2 linked regions of the Homo sapiens genome follow. The protein of the gene in region 1 interacts with the protein of each later gene in a pairwise test. Each region holds a gene or a part of one and is shown in the gene's direction. Other genes may lie near its edges. The genes, in order: MARCO and SCGB3A1.

Region 1 (16,284 bases):
GATAGTTTCTTCTAATTCTGTGAAGAATGTCAGTGGTAGTTTAATGGGAAATGTGTTGAATCTATAAATTACTTTGGGCAGTATGGTCATTTTCATGATGTTGATTCTTCCTATTTATGAGTATGAAATGTTTTTCCATTTGTTCACGTCCTCTCTGATTTCCTTGAGCAGCAGTTTGTAGTTCTCCTTGAAGAGGTCCTTCACGTCCTCTATTAACTGTATTCCTAGGTATTTTATTCTCTGTAGCAATTGTGAATGGAAGTTCATTCACAATTTTGTTCTCTGCTTGCCTTTTACTGAAGATTTTTGTGTCAAAGTTCATGAAATAGTTTTGTTTGTTTCTTTCTTTCTTTTTACTGGACTATCTTTGATTTTCATATTAGGATCATTCTGATCTCATAAAATGAATTAGAAAGTGTTTCTTCCTTTTCTGTAAGAGATTGTGTAAAACTGATGCTAACTCTTCTTTAAATGTTTATTACGATATGCTGGTAAAACTATCTGGGCCTGAATATTTCTTTTCTGGGAGCTTTTAAATTAAAATTTAGATTTATTTAATGATTATAGATATTCAGATTATCTATTTCACCTTGGCTGAGTTTTGGTAGTTTGTGGCTTTTCAGGAACTAGCCTATTTCCTTTAAATTGTGAGCATAAAGTTAGTGATAGTATTTTCTTATTTTCTTTTTAATGGCTGCAGGATCTGTAGTGATAGCACCTGTTTCATTTCTGATATTGGCTATCCGTGTCTTCTTTCATTTTTATTTTTGTTCAGTCTTGCTAGAGATTTGCCAATTTTATTGACTTTGTTCAAAGAGCTAGCTTTTGTTTCATTGATTTTTCTCTATCTTCCTATTTTAAATTTTATTTATTTATATTCTTATCTTTATTATTTCCTTTTCTGGTGATTAGGAGTTATTTTGTTCTTTTCTAATTTCTTGAGGAAAAAACTTAGTGTGTTGATTGGAGGCCTTTTTTATTTTTGGTGTAAGCAGTTCGTGCTATAAATTTTCTTTTCAGAGCTGCTTTTTTTTATCCCATAAATTTTAATATATTGTATTTTCATTTCCTTTCATTTGTATTTTTAAAATTTTTTTGATGCTTTCTTAATGACCCATGCATTATATAGAAGTCCTTTTTTAAATGTTCCAAATGTTTGGAGATTTTCCTGTTGCCTATCCATTGTTGATTTTTATTTTTATTGTATTATTGGCAAATAAGGTATTCTGTATGACCTTGGTTTTTTTTCATTTGGTTGAAATTTGTTTTATGACCTAGGATATCATCTATTTTGGTGTATGTTCCATGTGTCCTTGAAAAGGATGTACATTCTGCTGTTGCTACCTGGAGTATTCTGTGTGTTCATTAGATACTATCAGTCAGTAGTGCTAGTGTTTAGTTCTTCTGTAACTTTGCAGAGTTTCTATCAATTGCTGAAACTACGTGTTAAAGTCTCAACTATAATTGTGTATTGTCTATTTCTTTTTTCAGTTAAATCAGTTTTTGCTTCATGTATTTTGAAGTTCTATTGTTTGATTTCTTATTTATAGCACATTGTTGGATTATGTTTTTTAATACAGTTTGGCAATATCCGTCCTCTGATTTAGACCATTTATACCGAAAGTAATTATTGATATGTCAGTGCTTAAATTGGCCATCTTATTGTGTGTTTTCTGTTTTTTCTTTGTTTCCCATTCATGTATTTCTCTTTTCTTGCCTTCCTGTGGATTATTTGAATAATTTTTAGAATTCCATTTTGATTTATTTATAGTGTTTTTTATTGAATAGTTTTCTTAATGGTTTCTCTACTTATTGCAATATACATATGGAACTTATCGCAGCCTGGCTATTGCAATATACATACAGAACATATCAACATTTTACCATTTTGAGTCAAGTGTAGAAATCTTACTTTCATTTATGTTCTTTAGCCTTCTCCACTTTTTAAATATAATTGTCATTTTCTATTACATTCACTGAACACCACATCAGGTGGTATAATTTTTGTGTTAAAAATCAAATGTGATTTTTAAAACTCATGAGGAGAAGGATGCTGTAGTATATATCCCTATTTTTACTTGTTCTATTATTCTCTTTCTTTTTTGAAATTCTAGTTTACTATATCATTTCCTTTCTGTTAGGGGAACCTCCTCTAGTCATTCTTTAAAGTTAGTTCTGCCAGTAAAAGATTCTCTTCATTTCTCTTCCTCTGAGAGTGTCTTTATTTCTTGTCCATTCCCACAGTGTATTTTTATTGGCAATATAATTCCTGGTTGACAATTCTTCTTTTTCAGAACACAAAATAAGCTGTACCACTTACATCTGTTCTCCATAGTTTCTGATGAGAAACTTTCTGTCATTCAAATTGGTATTCCTGGCCAGGCACAGTGGCTCATGCCTGTAATCCCAGCATTTTGGGAGGCTGAGGTGGGCGGATCTCTTGAGGTCAGGAATTCAAGACCAGCCTGGACATCATAGTGAAACCCTGTCTCTACTAAAAATATAAAAATTAGCCGGGCATGGTGGCGTGCACCTGTAATCACAACTACTTGGGAGGCTGAGGCACAAGAATCACCTGAACCCAGGAGATGGAGGTTGAAGCGAGCAGAGATCATGCCAGTACACTCCAGCCTGGGCGACAGAGTGAGATACCATCTCAAAAAAAAAAAAAAAAGTATTCCTTTATAAGTAATGTGCCATTTGTCTCTGGCTGCTTTCTAGATTTTTCCTTTTTCCTTAGATGTTTAATTTTCTCTGCCTTTTTATGTTTTCAATGTTTTAGTTATGATGTGTCTTGATATGGATTTCTTTGAGTTTATCATGTTTGCGATTTTGGCAGTTTCTTTAATCTGTAGGTTTAGATCTTCCACGAAATTAGGGAAATTTTTAGCCATTATTTCTTTGAATATTTTTTAAGCCTCACACTTTTTCTAGGAATTAAATGATATGAATTGTAGGTGTTTTGTTACTGGCCCACAGGTCTCTGAGGCTCTGTTCATGTGTGTTTGTTTGTTTTCCCAGCTGATTTTCTGTTTTTCAGACGTGTAATTTCTATTGTTCTATCATCGAGTTAACTGATTCTTTCCTCTGTCACATCTATTACACTATTCAGCTCATCTACCAAGTCTTTTTTCTTTCATTGGTATTTTTTTAGTTCTATAGTTTCCATTTGGTTCTTTTTTTATATGTTGTACTATTTTGGTGAGCTTTTAAAAAATTTGTTTCAAGAATAGTTTTAATTGCTCACTAAGGCATTTTGTTACAGCTGCTTTAAAATTCTTGTGGAATAGTTTTAACATCTGTGTCATCTCAATGCTGGTATCTCTTGATTGTCTCCTCTCATCTGAGTTGTGATTTTCTCTATTCTTTGTATGATGGGTGATTTTCCATTATATAATGGATGTTTTGTATAGTATGTTAGGAGATTCTGAGTCCTATTTAAAACTTCTATTTTAGTAGACAGTCACAGAGTCACACAGTTTAGGTTTATTATGTAGGTTCTGGCCTACTTGTGTGGGCTATGGTACAATGACAATTTAGTTTTCAGAGCCCTGTCCACGTTATTTTGATCCACTTTGTTTACCTGGTGCCATTAGTTCTTGCTGGTCCCCTGCTGGTCCTTCCTGCAAGGCAGAAGGCACGTTCCAGTACTGCCTGGTGCTATCAGGTAGGAAGTGAGATACATCAGGCCCAAAGGGAAGACATTACTTCTCTGGGTCTGCTCACCAGGCAGCCCAGTGCTAGGGTAGAGTGAGGACACCTGCTCAATGTCCACTAGTGTTATAGCACGGGAGGAGGACACCCTACCAGCACTGCCTGCTACCCCAGGAGGTGGCAGACCTGGAGGAGGACACCCTACCAGCACTGCCTGCTACCCCAGGAGGTGGCAGACCTGGAAAGACTAGAATTTGTGTGCAGGCTTTTTTTCTTCACTGGGATCTTTTACAGACTTGAAAAATTATTTTTATTTCCCTCCTGAGCTATGTTTTCATTGTGGGCCAGACAATAGAGCTGTCAAATTTCTGAAACCTGCTTGCCTAAAATCTTTGCCCATACTCATCAAGGTTTACTCCAGGGAAGCCCATTTTTATTTACTAGCAGCTGTTTTTATCCTCTCATGTCAAGCAGCTCTTCCTCTTTGGTCAAACCTGATCCAGAATAGGTGTTTTCTTTATAGTTTCTTCTACCCTCTAAGAGATGAAATGAACAGTGTAGAGGCTAAAGACTTCATCAGACCCTCCATTTTGTACAGAATGAGTTATATAGGTCTACAGGCTCAACATTCCCAGTTTCTAAAATACTTTGCCTCTATGCCAGGTGGTAGCTCTGAATTTAAAAAGCATTCTGGGCCTGGATGGCTATCCATGAACTACTGTCACAGTATTACCATACCTTATTTTTTCTCATTGTATCCTTACTCACATGCCTTCCACCACGCTCTGACCATATGGTTTCAAAATATCTGTATTTTCCATGCTTGCTCCAGCCTCTGACTTCTGTAATACCTGTGTCTCTGAAGCACAATTTACCTTTCCATTCCCATGATGTTTGTTTCATAAAATTTAGTGCTGTCCAAAAACAGTGCTGTCCATGACACTGTATTTGCCAATTTGCCATCCACCACCTCGTGTTAAATGTGAGGCTCCCCTCGTGTGTTATTTGTCTTCATCATGACGGTTGCATGAATACCTGAGGCCCTGAGTTGCATTCCTGATGTTCTTTCAACACTTCTAACTCTGCACATGTTCAGCACCCAAACCTCTGTAGCCACTCATTCATTCATCTATTCAGTCATCATCTTCCCAGCATGTTGTGTGCCAGATACCACGTTGGTGCTGGAATACAGCTCAAAGAGCTTCCAGGCCATTTGGGGAGACAGAGACAAAAACACAATCCAGGGTGATCAGTGCTATGGCAGAGAGAAACAGAGTGATGTGGGAGAGCCAAGGGGGGTTCCACCCAGCCCAGAGGAACCAGAGAAGGTGTCCTGAAGCAGGACGGGCTCTACTGAACTTCCGAAGGATGAGCAGAAATTAGTCTTGTGAAAGGGAAGGAGGAGAGCCAGTATTCAGGGGACACACATTGCCCCAAGTCAGAAGAATGCCACCAGTTGTCATCTGGCCTGGCCATTGGTCAGGATCCATGTGGAGGTGTGACATGGAACTGCAGCCATAGGAGAGCTGGCCAGACGGGCTTCAGGTGCCAGGTTGGGAGCAGTGAGCCCCCACTGAAGGGCTGAGAGCAGGGAATGACTTGGGCAGGTTATGTGTTGTGGGGCTCACTCAGGCTGCTGTGTGAGCCTGGATTCTGGGGGGTAGGGTGCAGAGGAGACGGGGCACTCCATGCTAAACTGAGTATAATCGAGTACCACTAGCTAAACAACCAACCCACCAACAAAACCACTCCTCTCTGTGCTGCCAGAGCTACCCCTAGACCATTGTTCATCTGGGCATTTCTCAAGCAGGGGTCCCTGCTGTGCGGGGGTTGGAAGGAATATCAGCAGGGTAAACACAGGAGCTGCAGGTGATAGGAAAAGATCTGAGGTTTAAGTGCATCTGTCACAATAGTTAAAACCCACCTGCCCCTATCACAAAAGCAAACATGGTTGGGCACACATTCCCTTGGGCTCCTTCATTATTGTCTGTTTCCCTTTCAGATGTGCCCTTGGGGCCCATTTCAACTGGATCTTTCCTAGGGGCAGTGGTCAGTGCAGGCTAGTGAGGCAAGCTCAGGCCTTGAAGCTAGACCAACCTGGGGTCATATGCCTGCTGTGTCACCTGCCACCTTAACTTTTTAACCCCAGCTCTCTCCTCTGTAAAGGAGTGTAACCATGCCTACCTTGCAGGGTTGCTGCAATGGTTAGAGATGATGTTGGTAAATGCCTGGTGTGGAATAGGTGCTCATTTAATGTGAGCAGTAGGAACTGCAGGGCCTTCTGCAGTCTGGGGCCCTCCCTTTAATACCCCTAAACAAGACAGAGTAACAGCTGACGAAAGACTAGAGTCAGGACTTCCAGGCAAGAAATATTACAGCCTCTTTTGTAATGTCGCAAACTGGAAACAGCTCATTAAAAGGGAAATGTTAGCATGAACTGTGGCTTTTGTCTCTAAGGAGTATTAGGCAGCTAATCTCTCTCTACAAAGAAAACTAGGAAAATGTCCACGAAAATCTTTCACTGTGAAAAGCAATGTGTGGTATTTTATGTACTATGATATCATTTGTAAGATTAAAAGAAAAAAAGGCTTTCTCAGACTATATGGGTTTGTAGGATTTCTGGACAGGAGGGATGGGAGGAAGACCACACCCCAGAGTGCTAATAGAGATTATCTCATCGGGTTAGGACCTTAGGGGGTTGAGGGATGATTATTAACCCTTGTCATGCCCTGTACATTATTTGATAAAATATATCAAGCATGTTTTACTTTTATAATTTACAAATCTTAAGGAAAAAAAAGACCTAGACATGAATTCCAGATCTGCTTCTTATAACCTAATAAGTTATTTAATTTCTCCAAGTCTCACTACTTGTTTGCCAAATGGGAACAACCCTCCTCCTCCCAGAGTTTTGAAATTTAAACACATTAATTCATAATTTATTCCACAAACAGAGATTGAGAACCCAACAGGGCCAGGCACCATGCTGGGGCTTCACCAGTGAACAAGGTTGATATGACACCTTTTCCAGCAAATGATATATGGCACAGATGTTTATTTGCCCAGCCACACAGATGAGTGACCAACAGTGGCAATTTTTGCTTTGTGGCAAGAAAGAGGATTGGGGGATGATTTGGGAGTCATGAGCTTTTGGTGTCTTTCCCAGCTGACCTCACAGGGTGCCCCCTGCTCACATGGAGTAGGGCCTGGAGCAGGCAGGGACTTCCTGTGCTGTGTTCTCTGCAGCAGCCTCCTTCCTCCTGGCTTGTGTTTCAGTTCCAAAGCCCAAGAGGAGAAATGGGGTGAACTTCTCCCTAGCTGTGGTGGTCATCTACCTGATCCTGCTCACCGCTGGCGCTGGGCTGCTGGTGGTCCAAGGTAAAGCAGGCTTGGTCCTGTGTAGTCCCTCCTGGGGGGAGAGGGGTGACCCAGCTGGGCCCCTCAGATGAAGGGCTCAGGTTGAGTGGAGAGCCTCGGGCCACTGCTCCCATCTGCTGGGAGACAGTCTCAGCCCCTGGCAGCCACAGTGATGAGAGGAGCAAAGAAGGAGTGTATGTTGTGTGTATGTGTGCCTGAGGGAGGGAGAGAGAGAGACATTGAGAATGCTCTTGTGAGCCTATGTGTCTAAGCAGTGAAAGACATCATAATTTCACACGGGGGATGACACACACTTCTGACATCTAAGACTCCCAGCCTCTGAGTGGGAAGGGCTTTGCTGATCCAAGTGTCCATTTGAACATGATTTTACTTTTGAAGTATTCCCAATCTAAAGGTTAAAGTCATGAAGTCGTTCCATGAGCAGACACTGAAGTCACTCAAGAACGCTGAATGAGCAGTTGTCATAAACACGTCTTGTGTGTATTAAGATCACACACGAATGCTGCTTGCACATATTTAGGTCAGACCAGCATGTTAGCTGTCATGCATCTACACCCAGAGCATGCAGGAAGGTCTTAACTGCCTGAAGGTTGGAGATTGATTGTGGATGCAGTAGGCACAGCTTTAGGCCACGCAGAAATGTTTTGTGGACGTGCAATATCATGCCTGAGTGTGGAGCGCACATGGTCAAGATGTAGAAAAGGCCGTGTGCTCACGCTAGGTCCTGACAGCACATGGAATTTGTGTTTACAAATTCAGGGCCTGTAGAAGTTATGCACACATGACACAAGAATGTCAGGGATATGCTCAAATGCCTCAGTCCCTAAAAGAATGCTGTGGGGTGGGGCCCAGTTCTGAATCTGCAGGCGCGGCTCCGGGTCCTGGAGATGTATTTCCTCAATGACACTCTGGCGGCTGAGGACAGCCCGTCCTTCTCCTTGCTGCAGTCAGCACACCCTGGAGAACACCTGGCTCAGGGTGCATCGAGGCTGCAAGTCCTGCAGGCCCAACTCACCTGGGTCCGCGTCAGCCATGAGCACTTGCTGCAGCGGGTAGACAACTTCACTCAGAACCCAGGTTTGGCCTCCTCCCCTCTGGGTCAGGACTTCTCAACAGAGGTCTGGGAGACAGCGGGATCAGGAACCAGGAAATTAAGGACCCTGTCCAAGCAAAGTGTGACCTCCAAGAGCCAGGGACTTAGAGCAACCAGCTCAATGCCAAGTCTGAACCCAGAGTCCCCACATGGATCCAGAATGTCTGGGAGGGAGGGTAAAACACAGAGCCTGGGGCGGTTCCCTGGACCACTCCCCCACAGCTGACTTACACTGACATGAGGTTGGGGAGAGAGCAACTGAAGGCACCAAACTAGTTCAGACAATGTGGGGACTTTGTGGGGAGGAGGACACCCGGACCTGCTGGGGGAAAGGTGGTGACTTGGGTGGTAGGGCTGCAGGCTGGGGAAAATTGAGCCAAGGGTTAAAACCCCAAGGGTGCCCCTTCCCTCGGTGCTCTCAGGGCCTTGCAGCTGCACCCTCTCCTCTCTCAGCCTGCCCCAAAATGGGAAGAGCCTCGCCCTCAGACAGTTTCAGCAAAACCAGCTGCTAGGTGTGGCTCAACTGTTGTAGGGTTTACCCCGTGACACAGAGCTCCAGCCCCAGCAGGGTTCCTTGCTCTGGGCCCTGTGTGAGCTGAGGCTTAGGAGGGTGATCCCATGGCTAGGTCCTGTGACCAAGGGGTACGCCCAGCACGGGACCCAGGAGGCCAATCCCTCCAGAGGCTGTGGCCTCCCCAGGGAGAAAAGACGAAGGCTGAGTGGGGGTGTGAGGAGGGGCGATAGCTGTGGGCAGATGGAAGGAGTCCACGTTCAGACACAGACACCATGGGAGTGTCTCTTCCTTCCTTGAAATGTGAAGGAGCTCATTTTGACCAATACGAAGGGGTTCTACCTCCTCAGGCTGGTTTGAAGCAACCTCCTTTCCCCACCTCCAAGACTCCCAGGGATCTACAGGTCTCGGGGTGCAGTCCGCTAGTTGCAGCTGAGCATCTGGCTCTTTCCAAGGACTCTTTCCCAAAAAACAGCCAGGTGCTTGGCTCCTGTTGTCCAAACCCCCACAGTCTGATGGGAGCCCCACACAGGAGGGCTTACCCTCCCACTGCAGAACCTGGGCACTCTCAGTTGGGGCTTGGGCCAAGGGTACCCCACAGCTCAGCTGCAGCTCACTCTCCTTCCCTTGCAGGGATGTTCAGAATCAAAGGTGAACAAGGCGCCCCAGGTAGGTTCATTTCCACTCACACCCACCCTGCTCTTTCCCCAAAACCTCCCCAAAAGGGCCCCTTGGCCTGTGCCATTCTGGGTCTGGACAGCTGACCCTAGCTTACCTTCCCCTGTCTCCACAGCCTCCTTTGTCTTCAGTTGGGTCTCCTCTCTGTTCCCAGAACTTAACTGGACTCCCAGACCCTGGGCTGTCATCCCCCTCCTTACTTAAAGAGGCTTCCTCTCTCCACTCCCCCATCCAAATCTAGCTACCTTCCCAGGCCAGACCAGGCATCATCTGGCTGCCAGGGCAGCCTCTCTCCTGGTTTCCTGTAAGCATTCCTTCCAGGTGACTCTTACCTACCACATACATAGCACTTCCCACCAGAGGTGCTGTGCTCATTTCCATGGTGTCTCACTCCTCTCTCCTACAGGGCAGTAATGATGGGAGGCAGGTGTCATGGAGGCGCAGGCTGTGCGGTCAGGCCGATCTGAGTTCTAATCCTGGGCCTGGGGCTTACTGGCGGTGTGACTCTGGGTCAGTTACTTAAGTTTTCTGGAGCCCCAGCCACTCACCTGTGTAGGAAGCAGTGGAGATAATCGACTCGCCTCACAGAGTTGCTGTAGGACTCAAGGGAGTGCAAAAGCTGTCTGACAATGGCATGTGCTCTCTGAGGACAAGGCTATGGTTGTTTGCCTTTTCTTCCTGCCTCAACCCACATGTGTTGTGTTACACACACGCTTCACTCACAGCCCTGTTCCATTTCATCTGCTGAGTGGTTGAAATTTCCCCCTGAGGATAAATATACATGCCATTTTTGGGACAGAATCCTTTGGTCCCATAATATTTCAAGGATGGCCCAGATCACACCATTGGCCAGGGAGGGTTTTGAGGCAGCCTTGCAAAGTGATGGAAGCAGGGACTTGGGAGACTGGTGGGCCTACAGAAAATCCTGGATCTGCCCCTGTAAACTGGGTGGCCTTGAGTAAGTCACCTAACATTTCTGAGCTCTATGTCCTCCCCCGTAAGATGGAGATATGGTAGGACTTCCTAGGATTGGTGTCAGGATAAAACAATAAATGTACACCTCTTAGTCCAGTGTCCAGCAAAGAGCAAGTACTCAATGATGTTCTTGTCTTCGTTATTATTATGACTATTATTTGCTATTGTTATATATGGTTGTTATTCTGTTATTCTTGAGAAAACTAAATGCTGCTGCTAGGAGAGCCTCCAGCCTGATGAATGCTGGCTCCTCTCCTTTAAGGAGGGGCAGTTTCAACAATTTCAATTGCTTTTGCTGACAGAATCAATGCTTAAACTTCTTCTCAACCCAATGGGTTCAGTACAACCTTCAAAATCTGCCTGTCACCCGCCCTAGGCACAGTGCTGCCCACCTCACCCCAGAGCACAGAACATGGCTTCTATGGCTCTCTCTCTCTCTGTATGAATATAGATGTGCGTACATAGAGGAAAACTCCAACTCTCTCTCTCCATGTCTCTCTCTCTGTCTCTCTGAATATAGATGTATGTACATAGAGAAAAACTCCAACTCTCTCTCTCCATGTCTCTCTCTCTGTCTCTCTGAATATAGATGTATGTACATAGAGAAAAACTCCGACTCTCTCCATGTCTCTCTCTCTGTCTCTCTGAATATAGATGTATGTACACAGAGAAAAACTCCAACTCTCTCTCTCCATGTCTCTCTCTCTGTCTCTCTGAATATAGATGTATGTACATAGAGAAAAACTCCAACTATCTCTCTCCATGTCTCCCTCTCTCTCTCTCTGAATATAGATGTATGTACATAGAGAAAATCTCCAACTCTCACTCTCCATGTCTTTCTCAGTCTCTCTCTGTCTCTGACTTCTGTCTCTCTCTCTCTCTCTCTGTCTCTTCCCACTCTTTCTTTTTGTGCCCAGAAACCAGAGACAGGAAACTTCTTCCAGCAGCTGGGGCTATAGAAGTCTCGGCTCCTCCTCGGACACCACCTGCCTCTCCAGATTCCCCGCCCATCACCCTTTCCCACCCAGGGAGGCTGTGTTCTCTCCCCTTCCCCATGGCTTGCCTTGCCTGGTCAAGACTTCCCAGAGGTTCCTTTGTTGAAAAGGCTCCAGAGACAAATAGGTGGGTGGGGGAGGAGGGCTGGGTGTGGAACCCAGAAGTCATGGTCTCACTGGAGGCAGCCTGCCGGTGGAACTGCCTTCCCACGCAGGCTGCCTGGAACACAGTCAGGGGAACTGCTCCTCAGCCAAGCTTCAGGGAAGGGGATTGCGAAACCCACTTGCCTCTCTGTTTCTCTCCCCTATCCATCCTGGACTTCTTTCCTTCCTCCCAACAAATACCTATTGAAAGTTCCATGAGGATGAGAAGTCGCATAGGCACTGGGGATCCAGACATGAAGAAGACAGACAAGGCCCTGCCCTTGTGAGCCTTCCTGTGAGCTTGCCTTGTGTGTTTTCCATGATGGTCCCCACGTGGTAATCTCAGGACATCCCTGTGTAATTAGTACACTAATTCCATCTTACTGATGAGGGAGCTGAGGCTCAAAATGATGATGTAACTTGCACAAGGTCACCCAGCTAAAGGGGCAGTGCTAACACCTGCTCCTAGGACTGTGACTCAGTGTCTCTCTTTTGCTTTCTAGGCCATGGGTTTCTTGCAGGAGGAGCTCTGTCTTCTTTCCTTCTTTCCACACAGTTGGCTCATCCCCATGCTCAGTGAACGTTTGTTGAATGAATCACCATGTAAGTGATTGCATGGCGTTGTTGCCCCATCCTGTTGACTGACTCATTAGTGTCTCTGTTCCTCTTCCTCAGGTCTTCAAGGTCACAAGGGGGCCATGGGCATGCCTGGTGCCCCTGGCCCGCCGGGACCACCTGCTGAGAAGGGAGCCAAGGGGGCTATGGGACGAGATGGAGCAACAGGTACGGGTCTTTTTCTTCTGACCCTTAATCATTTTCCTCCTCCTTCTCTGGCTTCACTCTGAATTCCCTTTCCCTTCCAGGCCCCTCGGGACCCCAAGGCCCACCGGGAGTCAAGGGAGAGGCGGGTGAGTAGGTGCTGGGTATGTACCCAGAAATACACAGCAAGTTTCTCAGAGTGACTGCTGTGGGCTGCAGACGCAGCCTCCCTCCAGAGTCTGGACCTCTGAGGGGTCTGTAGGTGAACGGAGGCCTGGTGGGAGACCCCAGAGGGGATGAGAGGCTGGGAAGCACCCTTTCTGGTGGCCAGAGTAGGGCTGGGCAGCCGCCCTCAGGGGCAGGTATGGCTAGATGGCCTTCATCCTAGATGGGGCTGGGGGGTGTGACTCCTACCCCCTCCTCTGTGTGAGAATGTAAGTCTGCCAGTGCCACTTTGGAAAGTTGGCCTCCTTGGTCCAACAAGGACTCTGGTGTCAGGCACATGCACCTCCACCTTGGACTAGCTCTGTGCCCTTGGGAATGTTTCCTGATGTTCCCAAAGAAACCGAGCCTCAGTTTCTTTTTCTGTGATTGGGGATGAGAGGGCTGCAGAGGGCTGCCAGGGGGATTAGAGACAATGACACAAAGCTCATGATCGTTGCTTGGAAAGTATTAGTTTCCATTTTTTTAGACTGTTGCCTAATTCTGCCCAGCCATCTTATTAATATAAATGGGTTCACGGGGCCCGGTCAGAGAATGGGGGGCCCAGAGCTGTCCCTCCCCAGGGACAAACCCAAACATCAGTTTTCCATTCCACTCTGCTCCCATCCACCCTTAATTTAGAAACTCCAACTTGCAAATTCCGCAAGGGGTTGAGGCTGCTGGGATGTGAAGATGCGAAGACATTAAGACCTTTACTAGACAAAGGGCAGATGAGAGGATTTACAAGGGAGTGGGGAGTAAACAAAGCAGGTCTCTAAGCCGCCAGGCTGCTGAGGCAGAAAGAAAACACCACCAGTTACAAGAAAGGAAACTTGTTAGGAGGTAGAATCCTCCAGAAATTGATTTTGGGAAGGAATTTAATAGAAGGGACCCCAAAGAGCCTATTGATCTGTGTCCAGCAGGGGGTTTTCTGAGGAGGGTTTAAGCGGGGAGGATAGGCAGACCAGAAGAAGGAAGGTTTATGGTGCAGTCAGAGGTGTGCACATGCATTCACACCACACACACTCACACTCATGTCTGAGGGCACATCTGTGCACATACTTGCATTCTCACACTCACTCACGCACCAATGTAATCACACTCATGCACACACATGCACTCACATACACACATATACTCATGCACATATATGCACTCACATACACGCATATACTCATGCACACCCGTGTCTGAGCACACATCTATGTACATATTTGCATTCTTACACTTGCACAAGTACAATCACACTTGTGCACATATGCATATGCTCACACACATTTGCAGACATTCGCACCCCCCATGCACACACACTCACACTCAGCCTGTGGGGGCTTGAGCAGAGCAGGCTCACTCAGAGGGGAGTGGGTCTCCCTCCATCCTCTTTCCTCCGAGAGAGAGGGACTCAGGCTAGGTGACTGAAACTCACCAGAGTGGAGCCACTGAGGCTGGCTTGAAGGGAAAAGCCAGAAGCCTGAGGAGCACAGTCATTTCCTTCAAGAAGGAATAGAGCTGGAGCCTCCCCTTCTCTTTAGGACTCTGACAGGTAGGCACATCACACAGCCTTGACAGAGGGCTCAGAGCAGGACTGTGCAACCACTAGCACTAAAACCAGGCAACCCCTTTTTCAGCCCAAATCATCTGGAACCCACATACATGAAACAGATCCACAAAGTAGGCTGTTGTGGTTCCATAGAGAGTGTGGAGTCCAGAGCCCATCTGCACTTTCTGCTTGGGCCCCACTGGCATCCTCAGGAAAAGCTTGTGTAATTCAGCAACTCACTTAGAGCCTCTCTATATACACCCACCTCCTCTCACTCCTCTCCTTCCCATCCTTTTCCACTTTGCCTCCTGGATCCCTCAATTTCCCCTCATAGTCTCACCATTTCTCTCCTCAACAGATCCCTCCCTGCCCCTGCCCCTGCCCCAGGAACACCCAGCACCTCCAGTCTGTACTCCATATGCTAGCCTTGGATACCTGGGCCATGTGGGTGGGAATCACCGTTTCTCAATTCCAATTTTGTCTTAGAACACTAATTATGCATCTGCTGAGGACAGGTAGTCATTAGCAGCCCCATTTTACAGATGAGAAAATTCAGATGCAGAATACTTAAGTGACTTTTCCAAAGTTATCAGCCTGGGGAGTGACAGAGCTACAATTCAAACACACTTGCCTGACTCTAAAGCCTTTCCTGCACTGCCATGCAGGACATATTCCTAGGTGCTGTTCTGGACCTTTGGGAAGAGAGCTGTCTTAGCCTGTTTTGTGTCACTACTACAGAATACCTGAGACTGGGTAATTTACACAGAATAGAGGTTTACTTAGCTCATGATTCTGCAGGCTGGGAAGTTCAAGATTGGGCAGCTATCTCTGGCAGCTTCTGGTGAGGGCCTTGTGTTGAGTCAAAATGTGGTGGAGAAATGGAACTAGCTCTCTTGGTAACTAATCTAGTCTCACAAGAGCAGGAACTCACTCCATCTTGCCAGATGGGATTAATCTCTTCATAAGAGATCTGTCTTTGTGACCCAAACACCTCCCCACTAGGACCTGCTGCATTAAGGACCAGGCTTCCAATGCATGAACTTTTGAGGGACACTTTCATGCCATAGCAAGAGCAAACACTGCCTGGAACTGCCAGGGACTCTGCTGGTTGTGTTTGTGCAATCATATGTGTGTGATTGTGTGTGTGCATGTGTGTGAAAAAGAGAGAGAGAGAGAGAGTGAGAGTGAGAGAGAGAGAAAGATCTCCTTCTGGGAACCTTGCTCAACTAAGGGAATCTAGAATGTCAGCTGATTAAAGACATTTTAGACATTCTCAGGCCACAGCAACTGAGCTCTTTTTTCCTTCCTCACAGGCCTCCAAGGACCCCAGGGTGCTCCAGGGAAGCAAGGAGCCACTGGTAACTTGTACTTGCTCTGCTAGGGACAAATGATGCATAGCCTGAGGCACTGAGGCAGTTCCCCCCCACCCCCCATCCTCTTTCCACAGCCCCACCCCAGCCCCTGACAGTTACTGCCCACCCTACAGTCCTCTTCTCTTGAGTCCTGTCACATTTCTTCAAGACCACCCAAGAAATGAGCTAGCACATCCCCCAGAGGAAATCTGGGGATCCCATTCCCTTCTCTCCCAAATGCTTCCTGCCCCTTTGCCTCTGGTAGCCTGTCCCCAAAAGGATAGTGGGAGCCCATCTCACCAGCCATTCTCTTTGCAGGCACCCCAGGACCCCAAGGAGAGAAGGGCAGCAAAGGCGATGGGGGTCTCATTGGCCCAAAAGGGGAAACTGGAACTAAGGGAGAGAAAGGAGACCTGGGTCTCCCAGGTGAGGGCCGTATTGGGGGTGTCGGTGCTTGCCAGGAGGCCTGAGGGAACTAGGGCCTGACCTCTGTGCCATTGGGTCTATTCAGTGCCCACTGAGGGCAAGGCAGTGCTCTGTCTATGGGAATCTCTGGAGCACCACACATAGTCTCTTCTTTCCGGGTGAGCAAAGAGATGCAATATGAGAGGGAGAACAATGTCATTCCAGGCATGACTATGGCAAGCTGGGGCACAGGCAGTGCTAGGAGCTCAGAGAGGAAGCCAAGGGGATGAGGAGAGTGGGCCTGCACTGGGCCTTGGGAAGCAGGGCAGACTGACTGGTGGCAAGGGCAAGGGGATTGATTCAAGGAGGGAGACCCCAGGCAGCCAGAATCCCCCATTGACTGAGGGTGCTATCTCTAGAACAGTGTTCCTCAAGCCAAGGGCCAATATCATAAGAGCTGTTTGGGTGCTTGCTTAAAATGCAGGGAGGGCTCGAGGGTCTGTTTCAAATGCCCTGGATGGTTCTGACCATGAAGGTCTGTGCACCACACTCGAAGAAACACTGGCTTATGGGCTCTGGACTTGACTGAGCATGCCACG
Region 2 (15,003 bases), on another chromosome or scaffold:
ACAGAGCCGGCAAGGACACAGCTGGCTCCGCAGGAGGGCCAGGAATGGAGATGCACGGATGTGTCCTGGAGTTAGAATGGACAGGACTTCTGGATGGATTGGCTTTGAAGAGTGAGGGGAAGGAGGAAGCAAGGAGAACCCCAGGGTGCTTGGCTTGAGCGGCTGAGGGGACGGTGGTGCCGTTCACTGAGATGGGCAAGACAGAGTGAGAACTGGGTTGGGGGATGAAGTTGGACATTCTTCACAGTCTCGGGTCCAGGCTAGGTAGGGACAGAGCTCCAGTGAGTGCTGGATCAGATCGATCCGCTTTGCTGTTTGAGTCGAGTCTGTGTGTGTTTTCTGAAGTCTGAACGCATGCCATGCTCCACTGTGTCCTTGGTGGTTCCCATCAGACCCTGACAGGGCTCCAGTCCCTCCTTGTTTTTTGTTAGTTTGTTTTTGAGACAGGGTCTCACTTTGTCACCCAGGCTGGAGTGCAGCGGCACGATCTTGGCTCACTGAAACCTCCACCTCCTGGGCTCAAGCAATTTTTTTTTTTTTTAAGATGGAGTCTCACTCTGTCGCCCAGGCTGGAGTGCAGTGGTGCGATCTCAGCTCACTGCAAGCTCCGCCTCCCGGGTTCACGCCATTCTCCTGCCTCAGCCTCCCGAGTAGCTGGGACTACAGGCGCCCGCCACCACGCCCGGCTAATGTTTTGTATTTTTAGTAGAGACGGGGTTTCACCGTGTTAGCCAGGATGGTCTCGATCTCCTGACCTCGTGATCCGCCCGCCTCGGTCTCCCAGCAAAGTGCTGGGATTACAGGCATGAGCCACCGCACCCGGCCTCAAGCAATTGTTTCACTTAGCTGGGACCGCAGGCGTGCACCACCATGCCTGGCTAATTTTTGTATTTTTTGTAGAGACGGGGTTTCCCCATGTTGCCTGGGCTGGACTCTAACTCCTGGCCTGAAGCCATCCGCCTGCCTAGGCCTCCCAAGTACTGGGATTACCAGTATGCACCACCCGCCACCCAGCCTTCTTCTCTTACTAACACCACCTTCCCTGTCTTGGCAGCTGTAAAGGACCTGGCCAGAATGTGGCTGTGACCAGGGCACACCCTGACTCCCAAGGGAGGCGGCGGCGGCCTGAGCGGGGGGCCCGAGGAGGCCAGGTGTTTTACAACAGCGAGTATGGGGAGCTGTCGGAGCCAAGCGAGGAGGACCACTGCTCCCCGTCTGCCCGCGTGACTTTCTTCACAGACAACAGCTACTAAGCAGCATCGGACAAGACCCCCAGCACTTGGGGGTTCAGGCCCGGCAGGGCGGGCAGAGGGCTGGAGGCCCAGGCTGGGAACTCATCTGGTTGAACTCTGGTGGCACAGGAGTGTCCTCTTCCCTCTCTGCAGACTTCCCAGCTAGGAAGAGCAGGACTCCAGGCCCAAGGCTCCCGGAATTCCGTCACCACGACTGGCCAGGGCCACGCTCCAGCTGCCCCGGCCCCTCCCCCTGAGATTCAGATGTCATTTAGTTCAGCATCCGCAGGTGCTGGTCCCGGGGCCAGCACTTCCATGGGAATGTCTCTTTGGCGACCTCCTTTCATCACACTGGGTGGTGGCCTGGTCCCTGTTTTCCCACGAGGAATCTGTGGGTCTGGGAGTCACACAGTGTTGGAGGTTAAGGCATACGAGAGCAGAGGTCTCCCAAACGCCCTTTCCTCCTCAGGCACACAGCTACTCTCCCCACGAGGGCTGGCTGGCCTCACCCACCCCTGCACAGTTGAAGGGAGGGGCTGTGTTTCCATCTCAAAGAAGGCATTTGCAGGGTCCTCTTCTGGGCCTGACCAAACAGCCAACTAGCCCCTGGGGTGGCCACCAGTATGACAGTATTATACGCTGGCAACACAGAGGCAGCCCGCACACCTGCGCCTGGGTGTTGAGAGCCATCCTGCAAGTCTTTTTCAACAGAACTTCACAGACTGTTAGAGCTGCTGAGAAGAATTTGCTTTCCGAATTCAGCCTGGAAGGCGCCCAGGGACAGCTGTACTGAGTCTAGATGACTCTGACCCCCGCCCCAGGTCAAGGCCAGCAGAGCAGTCAGTGCCTCTGGAGAAGGCCCTTGCTCTCCCACCTGGCCCAGACTCCGAGGAGCCTGGGTCTGGAGCTGCCGGTCTGGTTCTTCCCTTTAGAGCCCGGATCTGCCACCTGCGGCCCCTCCCAAGCCGTGAACCAGCTCATGAGAGATGAACACTGTGGGATCCACTCAGGAAGGCTCGGGGCTGGCACAAAGGACCACCCAGCATTGCCCTGTGCCACCCAGCACTCAGTGGACATTCTGGGGACCTGCCTTCAGCCTTTTCCTGCCCTGTGCCTGACATCAGCACCCTGGCTGGTCAGAATGCCGCCCTCCCAGAGGAGCAGCCGAGAGATCCCCTGAAGGCTGGAGGCATTCTGCTCAGGACCCCTATCCCAGCTCACAGTGCCCAACCATCTCACCAGGAGAAAGAGCCACATCCCCACGTTAGGACCACGGAGACTGACCACCACCCTGACCCCCCAAACCCACGCACCAGACGCTTGCAGGACAGGCGCCGCGCAGCGGGCAGGGGCTTGCCCGGCCGACCCTCCCCTCCCCACCTCCCCCACTGCGCGTTACTCCAGGATATGCCGAGTGCACGTATAAGGTCATCTTCGTCGTCCCCGTGGACCTCCCCCTTCCTCTGCACGTCGTCCAACGTGGGACTGGCGTGTCAGGCTTCCCTGGGAGGATCTGGAGGTTGTTCTCTGCAGAGAACCAGCCTGGCTCCTGGCGCGCACCTCTGCTCCCTTCTCCTCACTACCCACCCACGCATGTACCGGGAAAAAAACTACTATGCCCTTCTAGACCATGTTCTGAGAAAAGATCGAAAATATTTAACAAGAGATAATAATAAATCTGATGCCGGTCTTTGTGTGTGTTGCGGACGGGAGTGTTGCTTTTATTGTTTTTGCTTCCGTAATAAATCTAAATGGGAATACAGAACAGCCCCCACATTGGGCTTTTTTTTTTTTTTTTTTTTTTTTTTGAGACAGTTTTGCTCTTTCCCCCAGGCTGGAGTTCAGTGGCGCGATCTCGGCTCACTGGAACCTCCGTCTTCAAGCAATTCTTCTGCCTCAGCCTCCTGAGTAGCTGGGATTACAGGCACCTGCCACCACGCCCAGCTAATTTTTGTATTTTTAGTAGAGACGGGGTTTCACCATGTTGGCCAGGCTGGGCTCGAACTCCCGGCCTCAGCCTCCCAAAAGTGCTGGAATTACAGGTGTGAGCCACCGCGCCCGGCCGCTTTTTTTTTGTTTTGGTTGGTTGGTTGGTTTGTAGAAATGAGGTCTCACTGTATTGCCCAGGCTGGGTTTGGATATTTTAGCTTTCCATTATAATTGACTGAATTTAGTCACTGACCTTGACATATGTGCCAACCCAGGTGTCCACCAACAGGGTGTCCCCCCGTGCCCAGGGCTGAGCGGCTCTCCAAGCCCAAAGTATGCCCCTGTGTGTTGGGAACTGAAACACCTCTGTGCTCCCATCCCGTACCATTTCCCAGCAGGGCTGCGCTCACACTTCCGGGCTCCTCTGGAACTTCCTGGGTTGGACCTTAAGGGCTGGGCTCAAGTGTCCCTGCAGGTCCCAGCCACCCTTTCACACCCCAGAGCACCACTCACTCCAGGAGTGGCTGTGTGGATGGAGACAGCCAGCGAGCGGGGAGGGAGGAGTCACACCAGGCTACAGCGTGCTCGCACTGCGAGGGCCCCTTGGTCCCTTCTGCCTCCCAAGAACCTTCTCACCTTCTCCTCTCAGGCTCCAGCCCTTCTCTGGGTGCCACCGCCCGCCTATGCCTCCCCACCTCCACCCCAGCCCTTCACTCTATTCATTTCTGCCAAGAGCCCTTCGTCACCTGCTTGGGGGAGGTTTGGGGCCCAGGACATGCCCGAATGTCCTTTGATGCTGTTGATTCTATGCTGACGTCCCCAGTGCCTCTCGGTGTGCTCAGGCCCTGGCGTTTGCATCCAGCAGGCAGAGCTCCCGGGTGGCTGCTCAAAGCCACACGTGGTCCTAGGCCCTGGAGTTGGAACTCACAAACCGCAGCCCCTGCTGTGAGGAGTGAAGAAGAGCAAAGAGGAAGACCAGAAGGACAGGCGAGGGAGGGAAGTGGGATGTGGGACAGGAGGCCACAGGGGACCTAGGGCCTGGGAGTCCAGAGTTGGGCCTGTTTCTTATTTTAAGGCTAGACGGGCATTCTGAGAAGGGCTGACGTCTTTCACCGAGAAGGAGGGATCTTGAAGGAGCTTGGCGGGGTCTGCAGGGGTGCTGGCAGGCTAGGAGATCAGAGGGACCCCCGGGAGGGCCCTACACAGCTCCCGCCCTAGATGCTCATTATGCTTGGGAGGAGGGAACCCAAAAAGCAGCTTCCAGCACCAACACCGGCTCCCTCCCTCTCATTTCCCCTGACCCCATCCTCACCCCATTACCACTCCCAGGCCACTCCACCCCAGTGGGCCCAAATCAACTTTTTTTTTTTTTTGAGACGAAGTTTCACTCTGTCACCCAGGCTGGAGTGCAGTGGTGCAATCATAGCTCACTGCAGCCTCAACCTCCCGTGCTCACATGATCCTCTCGCCTCGGCCTCCTGAGTAGCTGGGACTACGGGGCTCACTGTGCCTAGCTTCCAGGTAGACTCTTGAAGCTGTGTGCTTAGCCCAGATAATCAGCCACAGTGTCCAAGGTGCTGGCCAGTCCCCAGGTCACTGGGGCCATCTCCAGCCCTGATCTCTGCATGTGGATTCAGGGAGGGGACCATAGCATCACTGAGCGGGGACTGCCTTTGTGCCTTTGGCAACCACCAAATGAGGCCTGGGTCTCCTCTGCCACTGGGCAGAGAGCCTGGGACAGGCTGGGCTCTGAGGGCTCCTCAGGGCTGGGAGCGGAGGATGGGGTATGAGATGTGGCACCCTGCAGCTGGTGAGCCTGAGCCCAGCACCTCCCCTCGGAGCCTCAGTTTCTCATTCATGACTGCCACCTTGTAGAGCTTTGGTGATAAAAGTCATAAGGCCCCAGTGGTGCTGGGGGTGACCACACCCAGGTAAAAGCCCCCTTCCGACCAAGTGGTGTGAACAGGGGCCTATGAGCCCCCCTTGACTCACCCACCCACCCATGCACCAGCTAACACGTGCTCCCACCCGTCCCCCATATGCCCGATGGACTGAAGGTTTGTGTCCTCCTGAAATGTACATGTTGAAACCCTACTCCCAGTGTGATGGCGTTAGGAGGTGGGGCCCTTGGGAGGTGAGCAGGTCATGAGGGTGGAGCCCCTGGGAATGGGATTAGTGTCCTTACAAGAGGAGGCCAGAGAGCTCCGTAGCCCTCTTTCCACCGTGTGAGAAGTCAGCTGTCAGGAAACCAGGAAGCCCCTCACCAGACCCCCGATCTGCCTGCGCCTTGATCTTGGCCTTCCCAGCTTCCAGGACTGTAAGAAAGAAATGTGAGCCCAGCCTCAAAGCGCTGTGCACAGGGGAAATGCATCCCTCCTGAGGGCAAACTGGGCGGTGTCTGAGGTCAGCAAGCGCCCCCACACTCCCCCCACCCTTGTTCTGCTCTGGAGGAGTAACTGGCTGCAGCCACCACCGCGAGGAGAGGGGACCGTTTCCCCTTCCTGGGCCCAGTGGGGGACACCACCTTCCCCTCAGGGGCGCATCCAAAGAGGGAAGCAGAAACTCCTAAACTTTCCACCCGAGCCACGAGTGGCCAAGGGTGCCATAAAGCTGATGGTGGGCCGGGAGGCTAGAGGATGTGGGGGCTGAACTAGGGCTTGATGGGGAGCCCAGAGCGGCCACAGAGAGAGAGGATTAAGGGATTTGGAACACGCCTGGGGGCAGCATCCTTGGCAGCCTGGGCTGCCCCTCTGTGGCACACAGGGGTGGAGTCAGCCGGGCAGCTCCCAGGGTCCCGCCCATCCCTGGCTGCTCTGAGGCACTGCCAGGAGCTCCATCACAGCTGGCTTGTGGGCAGCAGGGCCACACAGGACTGCCCGGCCCTGGAAGGAGGCAGCTCCCCTGAGAAGGACATGGCCTCCCCTAGGGACAGCCGGGTACCTGGAAGTCATCAGCCAGTCTCCACGGAGAGGCAGCAGTAACGGAAGGGAACGCTCGGAAGGGGCCTTGCTTTGGGACGGCAGCAAGTGCATCTCTGCCATGGTGGGATCTTGGCCTGGAGTCTGGGCTGGGGCCTCCCCTGGGTCTGACCCCCCAACTCTCACCCCTGCCTGGCTGCTCCCAGCCCTGGCACGTGGAGGCAGCACAGGACGCTGTGCCTTCCGGGTCAATGGGCGTGTGAAGAGCATGGCCTGGGCACCGTGCAGACCCATCTCAGACTGCCAGGGGACTGCAGGCCGGTCACTGACGTTCTCTGAGCTGTGTTTCTTCTAAATCGTGAGGGTGATAATGCCCGTCTCACCCCAGTGCCATTCCACGCAGGAAACCACTTCAGTCCCTGGACACGGTGGGGCTCTGGGGACTGAAGTGCTTTCCTCAATGGAATGGTATTGGGGTGGGGAGGACAGGGAGTGCTGCTGGGCACACAGAGGTGTGGAGCCCTGCCCAGGGTCACCTCCTGAATCCCTGCCAGCACCCCTTCCTCAGCCTCCTTCCTCACTGAACAGACTGAAGCAGGGAAGTGGGACCTAATGAGACACGATGTTTCCTCTGCTGCTGCTGCTGTGGCCAGCACGGTCCTTGGAGCAGTGGGGTGAAGCCTCACGGGAGGGCCCTGGGGATAGCACCAGCGCTTGTGTGCCTGGGCCCAAATTGGTATCGGAGGTTTGGCACTGCTGGCTGCCAGCCTGTCACTCCAAGGAGGACAACTCTAAAAAATGGGAGCTGAGAGGCCGGGCGCGGTGGCTCACGCCTGTAATCCCAGCACTTTGGGAGGCCGAGGCAGGCAGATCACGAGGTCAGGAGATCGAGACCATCCTGGCTAACACGATGAAACCCTGGCTGTACTGAAAATACAAAAATTAGGCGGGCATGGTGTCGGGCGCCTGTAATCCCAGCTACTCAGAAGGCTGAGGCAGGAGAATCGCTTGAACTTGGGGTCAGAGGTTGCAGTGAGCCGAGATTGCACCACTGCACTCCACCTTGGGCAACAGAGCAAGACTCCATCTCAAAAAAAAAAAAAGGAGCTGAGAGATGGCAGGGAAGAATGAGGTATGAGGTCCTGGTGACATCCTTTGAGCCTGGATCAACCTTTCCCTGAAGGCGGAGCCACTCCTGGAATTTCAGTCTTTGCTTAAAGCCACGTGGGTCAGCTTTTCTGTCACTTTCACCAATGCCCTGAACCCACAAGGCAGGAACCACATCGACAGCACCTGCTCCCCTCCGCACAGCAGGGCCCTGTGGGTGGGAGTGCCGACAGGGAAGGGGCAAAAGGAAGTGGCTGAGAGCCAGATCAATATTGACCCAGGGACGGTGCCACAGAGGGCGCTCGGATATGCTCACGACACTGCCCAGTGCCCGAGGGCCCACGGGGCTGAGCTATGAGGAAAGAGGACGCGGGCTGAGGAGGGGGTGCTGAGCGCCCCAGGGCCCACGGGGCCGAGCCATGAGGAGGGAGGACGGGGGCTGAGGAGGGGGTGCTGAGCGCCCCAGGGCCCACGGGGCCGAGCCAAACCACTTCCTACTGGCGCAGGAGAAAGCCCAGAGTGCCTGCTGGGACTGGCCGAGGTGCCTGTCCTTGTGGGGCCCACTCAGGGCGGTGTGGAGGGTCGCTGCTGCTGGCCGCTGTGGTGGCCCTGGCCAGGAGCCCCCACAAGTCCCTTGAAAAAGGGTCCCAGGACCATCGGGAAACTCAGGGTGCCGGCTGACACCACCAGGGCTGCCCACCGGTCCCCACCTTCGAGTAGGAAAGTTTGCTCAGAAGGAGTGAGGAAGGGGGCCTCGGGGCCGGGGTCCAGCGCCTGCGGCCTTTGGCTCTAGACATAAAAAGAAGAGCAGCTTCTATTGGAACAGCACCACAGACCCCTCCCAAAGCCCCAGATCATTCTAGCATGGAGGGCTAACCTAACCAGGGCCCAGCCACCAGGACACCACCTGACAGCCAGCTGCTATCCCAGGAGAGCAGAGGTGGGCAGAGAGGGGCCCCAGAAAACTCCGGCAATGAACAGTCACCAAGATGCCTGCTCTGGCGGGGAGCTGCACTCACCTGCCCAGGTGACCACATCAGAGAGGCATGGGTATCCGGAGTTCAACCCAGTTTGCTTAATAATTTATGTACTCAAGGCATTAGGAAGAGAGGGCACCAGAGAAAGAGGGATATCAAAGAGAGGGGGCATCACAGAGAGCAGGGGCCTCAGAGAGAGAGGACATCAGAGAGAGAATGGGGACATGGTGGGGGCATCAGAGTGGGCATCTGCCACCTGAACAGCCCTCCACAGGTGTCTGCGGAAGCACCGCCAAAGCGTGGGCCGGGCGGAGGCACCGTGAGCCTCTAGGCTCCCCAGCAGGAGCACCCAGGGGCTGAGTACCCTGCTCCGAGGCCCTGAGGTCTTTCAATAGGCCCCAAATTCAATATCTGGCCCCTTCCCCAGAGCCGCAAAGTGCTTGTTTACCTTCCAGCTCTTCCTGCATTCCGTGGGAGTGGGCAAGGTGTGCGTGTTTATTTTGGCCCAAAAGATGCCCTGCAAACACTGCCCAGAACAAGCTGACCGTGTCGTCTGCAGACAGCGCCAAGCACTTTCTCAGTGTCTCGGCAGACCTGAGCCAGCAAGGGCCGCAAGCAGGAGTGGCAGGGAAGGCCCAGGCTGACGAGAGGGCGCTGCCCACCCGCCCCTGTCCCATGCCGGGCGGACTCTGACACCCACCCTGGAAGCCTCACCTGGCCTGGCCTTCAAGGGGCAGGGCAGCACTTGGAGGGCATGGCAGGCCCCAGGTCCGTCCACACCCCAGCTCCTGGAACCTTGGAATGTTAGGCTCAGCAGGCACGGTCTCGGCAGCCCGACTGGGGGCGTCATTGTGAGATGAGGGGACTGTCCTGGGTTATCTAGGTGAGCCCTAAATGCAACAACACACACACTCATAAGATGGCGGCAGAATTTTCACACTCACACACACCCACACTCACACACACATTCACACACACTTGCACACAATTCAAACACATGCATATCCACACACTCCCTCCCACACACTCCCTCCCACACTCTCCCTCCCACACAGACTGACTCACGCTTATCCACACACACACTTGTACACACATTCACACTCAAACACACCCACAAGCTCACACCCACTCACTCTCCTTCACATGCACATTCTCATTCACTGTCCATCTTACACACTTGCATGCATATTCACTCTCACCCCTCCACACACACACCCCCACACATCCCCACACCCACACACACCCACACATGAACCCTCACACACACCCACATACACACCCACACATACACACCCTCACACACACCCCACACACACTCACACACCCACACATACCCTCACACACCCTCACACACACCCATACCCTCTCACTCCCACACACCCACACACGAACCCTCACACACCCACACACACCCCCACACACACCCACACACCCACACACACCCACACACCGACAAACCCTCACACACACACCCCACGCACCCTCACACACACACCCACACACACAGAAGAGGAGGAGGCCATGTGACCAGGAGGCAGAGACTGGAGTGATGCAGTCACCAGCCAAGGGGCCCTGGCAGCCCCCATAAGCAGGGAGAGGCCAGGAGTGGATAAGCTCCTGGGAAGGCCCAGCCTCTGGAGGAGGAGCGGCCCCCGACGCCTCGCCTTCACCCCCGTGACACTGCACTTCTGGGCTCCAGAACTGCGAGCGGAGTAAATGTGTTGTTTTCAGCCACCAGGTATGTGGTGACTTGTCACAGCAGCCTCAGGAAATGAATACAGAGGCAGCCGCTGACCCAGCTGTGCAGGTCTCGGCACAGGCCAGACCCTCGGCCTGCCTGATCCCCAACTACCGCAGAGGCTTCGCCAGCCGTGGCCCCCAGAGCCAGTGTGGGGTGAGGGGCTGGGCCAGCCTGAGGTGAGTCCTGGCTTGCCTTGACCATGGCAGCTCGGGAGAGGAGAGCACATCCTTTGGCCCTGTCAGTGGTGAAACGGAGACACCGTGACACACTTCTCCGGGGAGCCAGGGGATGTATTTTTGGAATCCGAAATCTTGGGGCACATGGGAATGAGGGCCTGTCACCACCCTGCAGGCTTGTGGGAAATGGGAACAGATCCACCCAAGGCACTATGAGCCGGAAGGTGGAGGGAGGTTATTTTGAAGACAAAGGATCCCTGGAGGCAGGTGCAAGGGGCCGCTGGAGTGGCCAGGACCCCAAGCGCTGCTGGGGACCCACAGATGACGGCCTCCCCCTCCTCCTGGCCTCGGCAGCATCGGTCTTTCCCGCGGTCAGTGTTCTCTGGTCCCCAGGCAGCATGGGGAAAGGTGGCCCCAAAGTCAGCTCCCAAGATGCGCCCACTGGGATTGCTTGGGCCAAGGCTGCCAGATCCTGCTCAGGAGAAGAACAAGCATCATGAGGTTGTGGACACACTGGGATCCTTGTGCATTGTTGCTGGGAAGGCAGCGTGGTGCCGCTGCTATGGGAGAGATGGCAGATCCTCACAAATGACACAGGCAAGTTCCACAGGCTCCAGCCATTCTACCTCTGAGCAGCCACCCAAAACAGCCAACAGCAGGGTCCCAAAGAGGCATTTGCACAGCCGTGTTCACGGCCGCATTACTCACAGCAGTGAAAACATGCAAGCGCCCACATGTCCACCCACGGGTGAAGTGAATGGGTGAAGAAAACGTGGCACAGCCATGCAATGGAGCAGTATCCTACCCTAAGAAGGAAGGAAACTCTGAAGGTCATGAATGAACCTGGAGGATATCATGCTAAGTGAAATACGCCAGACACAAAAGACAAACACTGCCCGATTCCACTCATATGAGGTGCCGGGAGTGGCCAGATTCAGAGACAGAAAGTGGAATGGTGGTGCCAAGGGCTTGGGGAGGGGAGTGGGGAGTTGTTTAATAGGCTCAGAGTTTCAGTTTTATAAGAGGAAAAGAGTTCTGGAAATGGATTGTGGTGATGTTTGCACAACATTAGAATATACTTAATGCTAATGGAGTGTGCCCTTAAGATGGTGAAGCTGGGCTGTGCGGGGTGGCTCACACGTGTCATCACAGCACCTTGGGAGTCTGAGGCGGGAGGATTGCTTCAGGCCAGGATTTTGAGACCAGCTTGGTCAATGTAGCGAGACCCCATCTCTAGAAAAAATAAAAATAAATCAAGCCAGGCGTGGTGGCTCACACCTGTAATCCCAGCACTTTGGGAGGCTGAGGCAAGAGTATCACTTGAGGCTAAGAGTTCAAGACCAGTCTGGGCAACACAGTGAGACTTTGTCTCTACAAAAAATAAACAAAATTAGCTGGACATAGTGGTGCACACCTATAGCCCCACCTGCTTGGGAGGCTGAGGTGGGAGAATTGCTTGAGCCTGGGAGGTGGAGGCTGCAGTGAACCAAGATCACCTCACTACACTCCAGCCTGGGCGACAGAGTGAGACTGTCTCAAAAAACAAACAAACAAAAAACAAAATCAAAATCCGCTGAGTGTGGTGGCTCACACCTCTAGTCCCAGCTACTTGGGAGTCTGAGGTGGGAGGATTGCTTGAGCTCAGGAGTTCGAGACCAGCCTGGGCAACACGGCAAGACAGTGTCTTTACCACCACCAAAAAAGTAATTAACTTCAAACTGTTTTTAAAAAAGAAAACGTATTTCCCATTAAAATTACTTCCATGATGACCAACAAAACACAACCAAACTCCAGATTTATAATGCAAAAATCCCCCAAACAAAATAGTCAAGGAAAAGTGTAAGTGAACAGAAACAGTGTGAATGCGTGTGCCTGGCCACAACAGTTGGCAAAGGCACAAGTGTCTGCAGGTGCGGAGGAGGCCGCAGTAGCTCGGGGTGGCTGAGGGCTAAGACGTGCTGTCAGCCATAGGGAAGGAATTCCAGGACACTGCCTGAAGAGTCAGGTCCTCCCACCCGGGAGCCTGTTTCCCACGCGTGCCAGCTACACTTTACAAAAGAAAAGAGAGACTTTGCACCAACCTAGCTGAGAGCAGCCACGCAGCAAAACGTGAGTCACTCAGTGCTCAATGCCTGGGGTCAAAAAATAGAGGAAAGAAGAAGGACTAAAAGCAAATTAGTTTATGTATCATTTGCAAAAGTTTTCAAAATGTGCTTTGCTCTCCATCTGTCATACTTCTGCAGGTGACAGACGAGTGAGGACATTTAGAGAAACTCAGGAACAAACCAGGCCCATCCACTGGCGTCGAGGCTAGTTTCGAAGACAGAAAAACGCCCCACTTCTGTTTGCACTGTGGCTGCCTGTGGCCCGGCCGGGGAGGCGGCCGGGAGTGAGGCCTGATCGTCCCTGGCGCCTCCACCTCCCCAGGCGCAGAAGGCGCCCACGAGGACCCCCAGTGCCCGACGTTGCCACGGTCTGGGATCAGAGGCAGGGACCAGGGAGCCAGGAACTGCGCCGCCCCCGCCCCTGCCCTGGCGCGAGGGAAGCTCCCCTCACCCGGGCCCAGCCCTGCAGGGGGGCGCGTGGGGTCAGACCGCAAAGCGAAGGTGCGGGCCGGGGTGGGCCTCGCGGAGACAAAGGCCGGGCCTGCCTGCTCTCAGAGGGCCCCAGCGCCTGCCAAGAGGAAGTCCTCGAGGCCCGGGCAGGGAAGGGGGCACGGGCTTCCCAGGGCCCGCCGGCCGCAGCAGGAAGTTGGCCAGGGCACGGCCGTGAGCGGAGCGGGCAGGGCTTTCTCAGGAGCGCGGGCGAGGCCGGCGCTGGAGGGGCGAGGACCGGGTATAAGAAGCCTCGTGGCCTTGCCCGGGCAGCCGCAGGTTCCCCGCGCGCCCCGAGCCCCCGCGCCATGAAGCTCGCCGCCCTCCTGGGGCTCTGCGTGGCCCTGTCCTGCAGCTCCGGTGAGCGCCCCGGGCTCCTGGCGCGCACGGTGGGGCCTGAGGCCTCGGCGCCCGCTGCGCCCCCGCCGCTGCCTGCGCCGATCGTGGATCCCAGGTCCTTCCAGCCTCGCCCGGCGCCCAGAGGGCTCCGCCACCCCGGGGCCCCGCGCCTGCAGCCCGCGGCCTCCCCCTCTCAGGGCTGTCTCCAGCCTCGTGCCGGGATGGAGGCCGCCCCTGGCCTGGGGACACCCGTCTGCCCCCCGTCTGGAGACCGGCTCCTCATCCTGCAAGGCGCAGCGCGAGTGTCCCCTCCCTTGGGGGCCTGTCCCGGACCCTGCACAGAGTTCACCGGTCCTTCCGCCACCCTCAGGCCACTCCGGTGACCCTGCAGCGTCTCCTGGCGGGGCCGCCTCCCCAGACCCGCCTGTGTCCCGGGGGCTCGCACCTGGCAGGCCTCGGCGCAGGAGGGAGGGGCGGTCGGGGAGCCGGGCAGGGCGCGACGGTTCCTGGGCGCCTCCCGCGGGGGCGCGTCCTGGACCTGCCTTCTGGGGACCCCGGCGCGCAGGCGGTGACCCCTCCCTGTTCGCTTGCAGCTGCTGCTTTCTTAGTGGGCTCGGCCAAGCCTGTGGCCCAGCCTGTCGCTGCGCTGGAGTCGGCGGCGGAGGCCGGGGCCGGGACCCTGGCCAACCCCCTCGGCACCCTCAACCCGCTGAAGCTCCTGCTGAGCAGCCTGGGCATCCCCGTGAACCACCTCATAGAGGGCTCCCAGAAGTGTGTGGCTGAGCTGGGTCCCCAGGCCGTGGGGGCCGTGAAGGCCCTGAAGGCCCTGCTGGTAAAGTGGGCACCCCGGGTGCCCTTCCTGCGCGGGCATCCCTTCCCGGCCAGCCTCAAAACTGCACCAGAGGTGTCCCGGCCCTACGTCAGGGCTGTTTCCCGTCCTGCCCCTCCAAGCCCTGTCCCTGGGAGAAGCCCGGGTCTCCGGGTGGGAACTGGGTGGGGCGCATCCGAGCTGCAGGGGCGGGGAAGGCGGAGATGGCCCCGCGCGGGTGCGCGTCCCCCGGAGACGCCAGCGGAACCGCCCCGCTCCCGCTCCCCACAGAGCCGGCCGCTGCCGCGCCCCCGCCTGAGTTCTTGGTGGCAGGGCTGGGGGCACTCAAGCTCGGCTTCTGCTTTCCAGGGGGCCCTGACAGTGTTTGGCTGAGCCGAGACTGGAGCATCTACACCTGAGGACAAGACGCTGCCCACCCGCGAGGGCTGAAAACCCCGCCGCGGGGAGGACCGTCCATCCCCTTCCCCCGGCCCCTCTCAATAAACGTGGTTAAGAGCAGCTCGAGCCTGGTATTTTCTCATCCAAATGCTGATCCCTGTGGGGGACCGAGAGTGCCAAGTCCCAGATTTTGTGAGGGGTGCTGCGTGAGAGAGGGAGAGAGAGGCCGCGAGAGTCTGCAGGTGGCATAGAGCCAGCAGTGCAAGGTGACAGAGATGGGGCCAGTATCAGAGGTAAACCGGATTTGGAAACAAAACTGGCAGGTCTTTCTTCCTGTTGTGCTCTGTAACTGTTTATGAAGCATAAAAATTATCTACTCCTTGAAGACTGGCGAGAATGCAAACGCACCAAAGCCATTTGTTGCTAAAATTTGAAAGTTTTTATTTTTTCCCTCTATACTTGTAGATTTCTTCCTCGGAATGGGGGAGGAATGAGGGCTTCAGGAAATCCGCTGTTGGGCTTGTTTTCCCTGCAGTTTCTGCTGGTTTTGTCCAAATAACCTAGTGACTTTGATTCCTTCTACTCTAGCGGAGAGACCACCTTTTGTCAACTGATCTAGTGTTGGTGGGAAGGTGCCCAGGGAACCCAGACATCGGTGTCCCTTTCAGGGGAAGCCTCCCAGTTGACTTCCTTGCTGGGATGAATAACTCTGCCTCAGGTGGCTTGAGCAGGTCTTCCCCCCATCATGAATATCCACACGAGATTTTAAAAATTTTTTGATTG

What was found.
Region 2: the proteins of MARCO (region 1) and SCGB3A1 come close enough for resonance energy transfer, tested with the Homo sapiens proteins (one study listed by BioGRID).

Annotation. Positions count from the first base shown.
Region 1 is NC_000002.12:118,962,230-118,978,513, forward strand, and holds part of MARCO (macrophage receptor MARCO), read left to right. Parts: intron 1-6,930; coding exon 6,931-7,032; intron 7,033-7,884; coding exon 7,885-8,109; intron 8,110-9,269; coding exon 9,270-9,305; intron 9,306-12,103; coding exon 12,104-12,211; intron 12,212-12,291; coding exon 12,292-12,336; intron 12,337-15,241; coding exon 15,242-15,286; intron 15,287-15,598; coding exon 15,599-15,706; intron 15,707-15,959; coding exon of another isoform or gene 15,960-16,162; exon of another isoform or gene 16,163-16,177; intron 16,178-16,284. UniProt on the Homo sapiens protein: Pattern recognition receptor (PRR) which binds Gram-positive and Gram-negative bacteria. Also plays a role in binding of unopsonized particles by alveolar macrophages. Binds to the secretoglobin SCGB3A2.
Region 2 is NC_000005.10:180,589,442-180,604,444, reverse strand, and holds SCGB3A1 (secretoglobin family 3A member 1 precursor), read left to right. Parts: upstream 1-12,945; 5' UTR 12,946-12,982; coding exon 12,983-13,034; intron 13,035-13,606; coding exon 13,607-13,845; intron 13,846-14,190; coding exon 14,191-14,214; 3' UTR 14,215-14,340; downstream 14,341-15,003. Other genes in the region: FLT4 (vascular endothelial growth factor receptor 3), read left to right, coding at 1,055-1,253. UniProt on the Homo sapiens protein: Secreted cytokine-like protein. Inhibits cell growth in vitro.